Homo sapiens: one gene and its partners. The protein of the gene in region 3 interacts with the protein of the main gene of each other region in a biochemical or structural test. Each region holds a gene or a part of one and is shown on either strand. Other genes may lie near its edges.

The links.
Region 1: the proteins of GTSF1 (region 3) and LRRK2 form a complex in vitro, tested with the Homo sapiens proteins (one large-scale study listed by BioGRID and IntAct).
Region 2: the proteins of GTSF1 (region 3) and MFHAS1 form a complex in vitro, tested with the Homo sapiens proteins (one large-scale study listed by BioGRID and IntAct).

What each region holds. Positions count from the first base shown.
Region 1 is NC_000012.12:40,318,917-40,322,571, reverse strand, and holds part of LRRK2 (leucine-rich repeat serine/threonine-protein kinase 2), read right to left. Parts: exon of another isoform or gene 2,597-3,655; intron 2,585-2,596; coding exon 2,397-2,584; intron 1,539-2,396; coding exon 1,384-1,538; intron 538-1,383; coding exon 391-537; intron 254-390; coding exon 62-253; intron 1-61. UniProt on the Homo sapiens protein: Serine/threonine-protein kinase which phosphorylates a broad range of proteins involved in multiple processes such as neuronal plasticity, innate immunity, autophagy, and vesicle trafficking.
Region 2 is NC_000008.11:8,796,038-8,799,692, forward strand, and holds part of MFHAS1 (malignant fibrous histiocytoma-amplified sequence 1), read right to left. Parts: intron 1,455-3,655; coding exon 1,328-1,454; intron 1-1,327. UniProt on the Homo sapiens protein: Probable GTP-binding protein. Functions in innate immunity and more specifically the inflammatory response as a regulator of the Toll-like receptor TLR2 and TLR4 signaling pathways.
Region 3 is NC_000012.12:54,460,102-54,463,756, reverse strand, and holds part of GTSF1 (gametocyte-specific factor 1), read left to right. Parts: intron 1-459; coding exon 460-586; intron 587-1,031; coding exon 1,032-1,115; intron 1,116-1,584; coding exon 1,585-1,648; intron 1,649-3,285; coding exon 3,286-3,380; intron 3,381-3,655. UniProt on the Homo sapiens protein: Required for spermatogenesis and is involved in the suppression of retrotransposon transcription in male germ cells.

The DNA of each region.
Region 1 (3,655 bases), about 14 Mb from region 3:
AGTCACTTCATAAGTATTGAAGGATCACTTAAAAGCATTTGTAAGTTGTATCAAAACATACCTTCCTCTGCTTTCTTCATCAAGTCATCAAGTAAGATTTTTTGATGTTCTTCACCATCATTAAAACTATATAATGCCCATTTCTTCAACAGAGTTTCTCCTTCACCACAAATATCAATCTCCAGCAACCCAGGAAACCATTCTTCCATGAGAGAATCAATGTGGTCCACAACTTGGCCCAAAAGAATACAGCCTACATGATTCAAAACAGAGCTCAACACCTTGTCTAAACCTCATACTGTCGCAAAGCTTTAAGGTAAAGTTTTTTTTTTTTTTAAGTTTAAATTTCTTTAGTGTTGCAATTGAAAACATTCAAATTGATTTCCTTACCTTTTCTACAAGAAGGAACTGTAATTTTTAAGAAACTCTCTGGATGATTGTCTAAGACTTCAGATCCTACCAGACAATAAGCTTCAGGAGACCAATTTAAGTAAATGCCTTGTCGCCAATACATTCTGTTTGGGCGAAGTGCTCGTTCTAAAAAATGGAGCCATTAATTATTAACTGCTTCCTAAGTTAAAGGGAAAAAATCTACTGCACACAACACAAGTGATTGTAATACAGATCTATTCATTTTGAAATAAAGTATTGGGTTGTTACTGATATGAGTCCTCATCCATATCTATTAAATATTTTATCCACAACTTTACAATAAAAAGAGTTAAATCCCCTGCACATTAAGATCCATTTCAGGTTGATGCTGTTAAGCAGTTTAATATGCTCGACAGATGAAGAAAGAAAATCATAAATAAATCCTCATAATTTTTAAAAAGAAGTTTTTGATCATGCTAAACGCAAAACTTTCTGAACTTTTTAATGCAATGTAACTACCTATATGTTGATTAATTCCAATCAAGGTAAGGTTTATTTTGGAAACCAGTAACACCTGTGTAAAGCTAATTTTAATCCCCAAAATGATATTTTCCCTTTGGAGTACCAAAATGTCTCTATTTATTTTAGAAGAAAGAGTTAGCATTATAAACACCGGATTTGCTCTTTTTTTGTAAATGTCTTAGTGGCTGTGCAACAGAAAAGAGATAATTACAGTCCCTACAATGTAATCACAGTCAAGATCTGAGTGAGCACCTAAGGAATTTTCTTCCTGACAAATTAGATGAGGTTATATGTGCTTGTGTGTCTTTAGATTGCCTACTCCAAGGTTTTATGAGCTTATTTTCTAATTCTTCAGCTGCCTTCCAAACAAGTAAACTCTGAGAAAATGGCATATTACTTTTCATATGCCATCTCCCTAATTTCTCTAAAAATTAATAAGTCTAAATTAATAGTCTCTAAAAATCTAATAAGTCTTCATTAGATACTTACCTCTCCCTGAAAGCATGTAAGGTGAAATCTCAAGTAATCGATTGATTAATCTTGACCAAAATCCCATTGGAAAATAAGGCATTTCATATAGTCGGATGATAATTTCAGAGTTCTCACAATGGGGAAGCTCTATCACAGGCCTGTGGTCAGACAAACTAAAGGCAAAAGGACACTATGGTTATACAGCCTCACAAAACACCCAACCTTGTTGAGCAAATGATTTTACTGCTTAAAGTCAATGAAGGTAATCATTCCAAACAATTGTAATCTTTTTGTAACATTGTTTCACTACATATTTTTCCTACACCAAAAATTCAGTGGTCAATAACCAATTCAAATGCATGCTCAGATGTAGATGCATGAAATATTTTCGGTAATCCCTGTGCACTAATACATAAATTATTACAATTAGTTATGCATAGACAAATGTAATCTTATATAAATCCTGAAAAATACATGTCCTAGAAAAAAAGTGTATATTTATTTTTAAAATTGGCTGCATCCATCAATCAATGTAATTTGCACATTTCAACATCATATTACTTTATAAATTTCCCAGTTGCTTAGAGCAGTAGGAAAAATTTCCATAGTATAGGCTAAAACATAGGCATCCATTGTGATGCCATAAATGCTTTTAAAATTCTGTTGAAAACTCACTATCTTCTCAGAACTTGCTTAATAAACTCTCTCAGTGTTGTTTAAGAACACACACATACACAAACACAGACACACACACACATTAATCTCCACTATTTACCTTTCTTAAATAATTTCAACAGTGATAAGCCAACTAGTAACTATACACATAAAGTAAGTGATTTACTATATTGTTAAAGTGTCAGATGCAATGTTTTATTCCAAAATAAATGATACATGTCAGTAGGAGGTTTACACTAGAAGCAAAATATATTTATTTATTTAATACATCTATTATAGACTACAGTTAGTTTGACAATTAAAAGAATAGATAGTGAATTTCCATGTAGCAATTAATTTTTTAAGGTTTTCTTTACCTGCTTGGAACCAGCAAATATTCTTCTCCTATTGGCAAAGCAATCTGGAATTTTTCTAGGAGCTTAAAATACTGTGACATGTAGTTCTTTGGAAATTTCCTTTTTTTTGAAAGAAATTTTTCCACATCTCTACGCGAAATAATGCCCTTAGGGTGTTTTGGACAACCTTCCACTTTCACTGTCAAAATCTGAAAGATTCGAGTCATAAATAATCACTAAAATTTATTTTCTGAAATGTTGCAAATTTAAAGCATTTTATGTCTCTTTGCTCAGTGAAAGTAGTCAGAAAGATTTTAGTGTTTTCAAGTGCAACACAGTACCTAATTTCTCTAGCAACCATGTGGCCTAGAAGCCCAGAGGGGCATTCACTCTCAAAAAAAAAAAAAAAATTGTTAAATTAAGGGAGTTAATTCGGATAGGAAATCATTGAACTTCACTGAAACAATGAACATCAGTATTTCCCTAGCTACAATGGAAAGATCAATCCAATACCTCACATCTGTTTTGCAGTCTCATCAATAATATATTCCCAGGAAAATTATCTTCCAGACAGTTATCAATACAGGTTTGAAATAGAAATATTACTTCACATTTATATACTAGGAGAGGACTTCCATGAATAGGAAGACAGACTGTGTAGCAGAGTTTCATGATTCTCAAAGTAACTACTGCATTTTGATGGATTCTACTTGCAGTGTCTGGGTCAGTAGGTCTGGGTTGAGGCCTGAGAATCGGCTTTTTTAAAGAGCAACCCCGATGTTTCTAACACAGAGATCACACTTTGAGCTTTGATCCTTGTCATGGCAGTTAAAAATCAGTCAGAACCCAGATTCAAATCCAGGCTCTACTACTAGCTCTGTAACCTTGGGAAAGGTATTTGATTTCTTTACTGCACAGCTTTCTTCTCTATAAAATGAGATAATAAAAGTGACTGTCTTAGATTGCCCTGAGAATGAAATAACACATGTAAAGTACGCAAAGTACATATGACAAATTTTAGCATATTTATCTATATATTCCAATTTATTTTGCTTTGTCAAATTCACTTTAAAAAGAGGTTTGTATTTAATTTTCTTTGGGAGATCTATAATGTTTAAGGAATACTTAAACAGAAGCAAACATTATTTATGCTATCATGTAGTTGAGTGAAATACCAGGTTATAAAGTCCTTAGGCCCAAGGACTTGTCTTACCCATTTCTGTATTTCTATTTTGTATGTACAGTATTTATTGAATCAATGAATGCATGGTTGATTGAAC
Region 2 (3,655 bases), on a different chromosome or scaffold from region 3:
AACAGGCATTTCATCTCAGCTTAAAAGCGGCCTCTTTGGTTCTTAATACAAACAAAACAAAACGAAAAACACACATACATAAAACCCAAACCAACAGGATGAGTGTTATCTAGAATAGTAGTAACCCAATGTTCTATCTGAAAGTTACTTGGCATGTGTGCGTTCTCTGTCTTCAAGTCCATTTTGGGGCAAGGTGGTGGCAAACTGCACAGCCCTTGATTTTCAGGGACTGACTCCGCAATCAGAACCATGCAACAGAAAACGGCCTATTACTGACTTTCTGCAGGCTTTGCTCATGGAATGGGCCTGCGCTGGTTTTTGATGTGAGAGCCAACTTCATTCTGCAATGACAGAGTTAAGACTGCCCGTCAAAAAACTATTTTCTTTTGTAATCCCAGCACTTTGGGAGGCCAAGACGGGCGGATCCCGAGGTCAGGAGATCGAGATCATCCTGGCTAACAGGGTGAAACCCCGTCTCTACTAAAAATACAAAAAAATTAGCCGGGCGCGGTGGCGGGCGCCTGTAGTCCCAGCTACTCGGGAGGCTGAGGCAGGAGAATGGCCCGAACCCGGAAGGCGGAGCTTGCAGTGAGCCAAGATGGCGCCACTGCACTCCAGCCTGGGCGACAGAGCAAGACTCCGTCTCAAAACAAAAAAAAAAAAAAAGGCAAAAAAAGGCCGGACGTGGTGGCTCACGCCTGTAATCCCAGCACTTTGGGAGGCCAAGACGGGCGGATCCCGAGGTCAGGAGATCGAGATCATCCTGGCTAACAGGGTGAAACCCTGTCTCTACTAAAAATACAAAAAAATTAGCTGGGCATGGTGGTGGGCGCCTGTAGTCCCAGCTACTCGGGAGGCTGAGGCAGGAGAATGGGGTGAACCCGGGAGGCGGAGCTTGCAGTGAGCCGAGATCGCACCACTGCACTCCAGCCTGGGTGACAGAGCGAGACTCCATCTCAAAAAACAACAACAAAAAAAATGTTCTTTTTGGTTCCATATACCTGCAAATAAACTGAAAACCAATGAACTGTACACTTAGGTAAGTGAACTGTGGTATGTGAATGACATCTCAAAAAGGCTGTTAAAAAATGTTCTGACTTTATTAGCTAAAGTAAAAAAAAAAAAAAAAATCACAAAAAAGAGGAAATAAAAGTTCCTGTTTTGCTGCATAAATCATGATGCTGATGTCATCCAGAAGAATTATGTCTGTTCAGGAGGACTTTGCAAGGTTTGTGCAGATGCAGTTTAACCTGGATTTTTGTGGTCATATCTATGGAGCTGGGATCAGGAGCCAGGTCCCGGGGCCAGAGGGACTTTGAGAACTCACTTGGAACAGGGGCTGATCACAGTCGGCGTGGGTGGGTAAACCAAGGCAACATTTACTCGCTCGCTGCCGTTCTTGGGGCAAATGATCTCTGCCACTCCTTCCGGTCTGGGCTGACTCAGCAACTCCCCTGTAGGAGGAGAGAGAAAAACGTGTTAGGGAGATGTGCACTAAAAATGGGCTCATTTTACAAAGACAGCACTGCCCGGGGATGGGGGCAGGGGGAGAAGGGCAGAGGTGAAGCAACGAAGGATGTGAGAACAAATGTGCAACCAAGAACAGCAGAACTGCCTGGGCGCCGGCTCCAGCGCCTAAATCCTCCTCTGCGTCACCGTGGAGAAAATTTTCATGGTTATGGCAGGAAGGCCCACACTAGACAAAGACAGCATCTGTCACTGCTCTGCTCACCTTCCTTTTAACAGACTGACTCCAGGGATCTTTATCTAGATATCAACGACTGAGCCAGAGTCCCCAGAGCCCACCGAAGCAAGGGCTGCCAAGGAGGTGTTCATAATTAGGATTTGGGGCAGATGGGACTCAAGCAGACCACAGCAACCATTCAACAAAGCCCTATATAAATGATCTGGAAACACAGCAGACTAAAAGTGTTAAAAACACAAACAGCCTAAGATCAGCCCAGCCTCCTCTGGGCAAGGGGATTGCCCTGATAGGTATGTGTGAAGCAGATGCACGACACAACACTATCTAACGAGTCTAGCAAAAACACATAATTAACCTAATGGATCACCACAATACTTAAAGGAACGCTATTACTCTGCATGCCCTGGATGTAATCTCTCTTCAACTAGATCATTACATCTCTAAAAGCAGTGATGACTTCCATTCTCTCATCCATATACCCAGGGCACCCTGCCCTTTCTCAGAGAGTACTCAAGAAACAGCTCCTGGCTGCAGATGGGACACATTATTGTTCAAACTGCCCTACTTAAACCTAGGAACTAAATTTTTTGTTGTTGTTTTGGAGACAGGCTCTTGGTTTGTCACCCAGGCTGAAGTGCAGTGGCCTAATCACAGCTCTCTGCAGCCTCAATCTCCCAGGCTCAGGTGATCCTCCCACCTCAGACTCCCAAATAGCTGGGACCACAGGTATGCAGCACCACATCTGGCTAAATGTTAACCTTTTACTTTATTTTTGTAGAGACAGGAGTCTCGATATGTTTCCCAGGCTGGTCTCAAACTTCTGGCCTCAAGCAATCCTCCCACCTCAGCCTCCCAAAGTGCTGGGATTACAGGTGTGAGCCACCATGTCTGGCTTCTAGAAAGTCAATTAACCAAATCAAGGATGTGAAATGTACACCAACTGGGGAAAGACACTACTGCAATTACAACTTCAACTCTCTGCACCAACCACTTCTACTGCTGACTTGAAATTCTAGAGACTCCGGGCTGGGCGCGGTGGCTCACACCTGCAATCCTAGCAGTTTGGAAGGCTGAGGCAGGTGGATCACAAGGTCAGGAGTTCGAGACCAGCCTGGCCAATAAGGTGAAACTCCACATCTACTAAAAATACAAAAATCAGCTAGGCATTTGTGGCAGGTGCCTGTAGTCCCAGCTACCCAGGAGGCTGAGGCAGGTGAATCGCTTGAACCCGGAAGGCAGAGGTTCCAGTGAGCCCAGATTGCGCCACTGCACTCCAGCCTGGGCGACAGAGTGAGAATCTGTCTCAACAACAACAAAAAAAAAAAAAGAAAAGAAATTCTAGAGACTCCAAAGAAGAGCAGTCCCCCCTTATCCCTCAGACATGCGTTCCAAGACCCCAGCGGATGCATGAAACCGAGGACAGTACCGAAGACTATACAGACTATGTTTTTGCCTATAAGTAGATACCTATGATAAAGTTTAATTTATAAATTAGGCACAGTAAGAAATTTACAACAATAAATAGGACAATGATAATATACTGTATTAATAATTAAACTTTTATGAATATGGTCTCTCAAAAACTATTATTATGCTGCATTCACATGTATTTGGACCACAGTTGATTGCAGGTAACTGAAATCACAGAAAGTGAAACCATGGATAAGGGGACCACTGTATCTGCTGACGTATAATGATATGAAATTCCTTTGCTTCAAAGTACTGTATTTCTGGCTGGGACAGTGGTTCATGCCTCTAATCCCAGCACTTTGCGAGGCAAAGACGGGTGGATCGCTTGAGCCCAGGAGTTCAAGATCAGCCTGGCCAACATGGTAAAACCCAGTCTCTACTAGAAATACAAAAATCAGCCAGGCATGTTGGCGGGCACCTGTAATCTCAGGTATTCGGGAGGCTGAGGCATGAGAATCACTTGAATCCAGGAGGCAGAGG
Region 3 (3,655 bases):
AGCACTATTGTATTGCAATAGCAGGGACACTACTGCAATGCAGACTAAGAGTGTATTTTAGTGTTGCTATTCATCTTGAATATCAGCTTTCAAAGACATCCAGAGAGCTCTCTCATTACGGGCTGTGCTGCCTGAATCATGTGACTCTGAGAAATAAATGGGGGAAAGATGTCGTTCCAATACCCAATCCTAAATTCATTGTTTAGCTAACAATATCTGTGTTGTCAGTCTCTACAATCATAACAAAAAGACTTATGTTTTGATGATTTTGAAGTAATTGTCTATAAAAACAATAAATAATTCCCTCTTAGTTTTTTACTCTGAGTTTACTTGTTATAGTTAAGCCAGAAGTTTATTGAGGAATTTTAGGGGAGGCATTTGTAGAATAAGGCTTAGCTACTCCCTGTTGACTTTAGTAGATCCAGAGAACTGACAGATCCCTTAATTTTGGTTCCACAGAATCATCCTGATGTTGCAAGCAAATTGGCTACTTGTCCCTTCAATGCTCGCCACCAGGTTCCTCGAGCTGAAATTAGTCATCATATCTCAAGCTGTGATGACAGAAGTTGTATTGAGCAAGATGTTGGTAAGACTTAGTATCTAAAATATTTCAGTACTGGAGGGTAGCTCCTTCAGATTTGTATTATGCTAGATTGTCAGCTTGATTTTTGGCTTTCAGTGTTTTAGAAGAACAATACTTTTCCACCTTTGAGATTTGTATCATGGCAGCAATAGGTTGTCAGATTGTACATGTCATACTGTTTTCTCTCCTGAACAGCCTGGTTCATTTTACTAATAATTCATCTAAAAATAAATCTTTTATTGCCATAAATATGGTAAACATTTTTGTTTCTGCTTTTCTTTCTTCTGTCAGCAAAGAGATAAGATCCCTCTTTTAGCTTTTATACTATCCATTTTTCAGAAATAAAGACCCAACAGGCTACCCTTGCAACCTTTTAAGCTACTAGCCCCTTTGAACACAATAACTTGGCAATATCCCCCTCTTATATCCAATCTTTATTGTCTTGCAGTCAACCAAACCAGGAGCCTTAGACAAGAGACTCTGGCTGAGAGCACTTGGCAGTGCCCTCCTTGCGATGAAGACTGGGATAAAGGTGAGCTGCCTCTACATCTTTTTCTTCACAATGTCTAAATCTCAAGTCATTTGCTTAAGACAGAAGGAAGATTTTCCTTTTTTATGAACATACCATGTTGTTCAGAATGCCTTATTATTTTTATTGGGCCCCAAAACGAGCACATTTGTATCGCTGTGCAGACACGTGGAACAGCCAATCCCTCTTGATTGGAAAAAGCACTTCTTTACATCTGTTTTTTTCCATAAATTGTGTTGTACCATCTGTGTTTGATTGTTAGTAGGCACGTTTATTATTATTTATGTTGCTTGTGTTTATATTCTTCAATTAAATTCTTGCTACTGTGTCACTTAGGCAGGACACTTGATCAATTTTTACTTGCTTCTGCAAAACTTAGGTGTATTATTTCCCATCTTATAAATTCAACCAACATGAACTGCTGGTGTCTTATCTAGTAGTACCACAAACTATGTTTTGCTTCCTTTAACAGATTTGTGGGAGCAGACCAGCACCCCATTTGTCTGGGGCACAACTCACTACTCTGACAACAACAGGTAAATGAAATAGTCTTATCCCAGCATTGTCTCCCAAAATCAGCGTGTTCTGTTACCAAGAGAAGCCACCGGAGCATGAATTGACCACTTTCTTTAACGATGTTCCTTGATGGTAGTTTAGTCTAGATATTGTTTTGGCATTTTTTCATATTTATTCCTTGATTCAAAAAGGTCATGTGCTTTGTGCCAATCATAAGGGATACAAAAATACATTATCGTTTAGCAAGGGAAACAGTAGCCCCAGACTTTCATGTGTCTTAGTTATGTTTTTTGCTAGGTTTACATTATTTTAATGCTTTGAAAAAATTCTCCCACTATACCACTTGGATCATTTTTACTTTAGGTAACTAGTGTATAGGAAAAAGCAGTCTTAAAAATTCTTTATTTGAGATTGGAAAATCCAGAGTACCTATTAGGAAAGAATATGCATCTCTTCTTCCCACTGATTTTGTATCTGATTTATTTTTTTAGAGACAGGGACTCTGTCAACCAGGCTGGAGTGTAATGGCATGATCATGGCTCACTGCAGGCTCTGCCTCCTGGGCTCAAGCGATCCCCCTGGGCCTCTCAAATAGCAAGAACTATAGGGATCCACCACCACACCTAGCTAATTCTTTATTTTTGCCCAGGCTGGTCTCAAACTTCTGGCCTCAAGTGATCCTCCCCCCTCTGCCTCCCAAAGTGTTGCTCATGCCCAGCTCTAATTGAAAACTAGATGATTTCTGGCCAGGCACAGAGTAGCTCATACCTGGAGGCCAAGGTGGGAGGATCGCTGAGGCCAGGAGTTCAAGATCAACATGAGTAACACAGTAAGATCCTGTCTCTACAAAAAAATTAAAAAAAAAAAATAAGCTGGGCATGGTGGTGGATGCCTATAGTCTCAGCTACTTGGGAAGTTGAGACCAGAGGATCATTTAAGCCCAGGAGGTCGAGGCTGCAGTGAGCCATGATCATGCCACTGCACTCCAGCCTGGGTGACAGAAAGAGTCCTTGTCCAAAATAAAATAAAAATGAATGAAGCTATTTCTCATTAACACCAATACTCAAACCTTGGAAGATCAAGTTTCAAACCCAAATGAGAATATTTCTGGTTTAGGAAATGAAGGAATAAGATGCTAGACTTCACTTTTTTCCCCAAACAGAATGCTTGTCAAATTTTTACTTTTTAACTACTGAGAACAGTAAATAATTTTAAGTGTATACTATTTTATGTGCACTAAGATAGAAAAACTTAAAATGAATTCCGTTGGCTACAACTTTTAATTTTACCTCAGTTGAAGATTTGCTGCTTTTGGTTTGGTTGCCTTAGCACTTTATTTTATCTCTTACGTTTATTGAGTGAGTTGATGAGCCTGTCATACAGCTGAACAGTAGATGGCATTGCTGTTTATCTCAATTTCTAGAAAATGAAAATGGTTAGACCCATCTTAATGTCTATACAGAACAGGGAGCTTTCCAGAGAAGTAAGTGGTAATCATTCTAATTGCCGGAACGTTTTGATGGAAATGTGTTTACATTTCAGATGAATGTAGGTTGTTGTTTTTCCCCAAATTACAAAAAACACATTTTGATTATCTTACGTGTGCCTGCTTGAATGATACTGATCTGCCGACATAGCCAAATTCATCTTTTTGCAGCCCTGCGAGCAACATAGTTACAGAACATAAGAATAACCTGGCTTCAGGCATGCGAGTTCCCAAATCTCTGCCGTATGTTCTGCCATGGAAAAACAGTAAGTGAAATAGAGACAAAATAGTTTTACTCTTTTCATTGTGCTAAATACAGTTGATCTTGATTATTCAGATGTGTTCAGTCTGAACACCTTGCATTTCCATGACCCTTAAAGTGAGTGCCTCCTTAAATGTTATGCCCTAAGCACCTTACTCAGTTCACCCTACTGACCGTGGTTAGGAGCAAGAAATTATGAACAGGAAAGTATAAGATCACAGAAGCCAAAAGAATATTTTCAAAATGGGGTGACCACTGACGTCAAATACCATGAGAAAA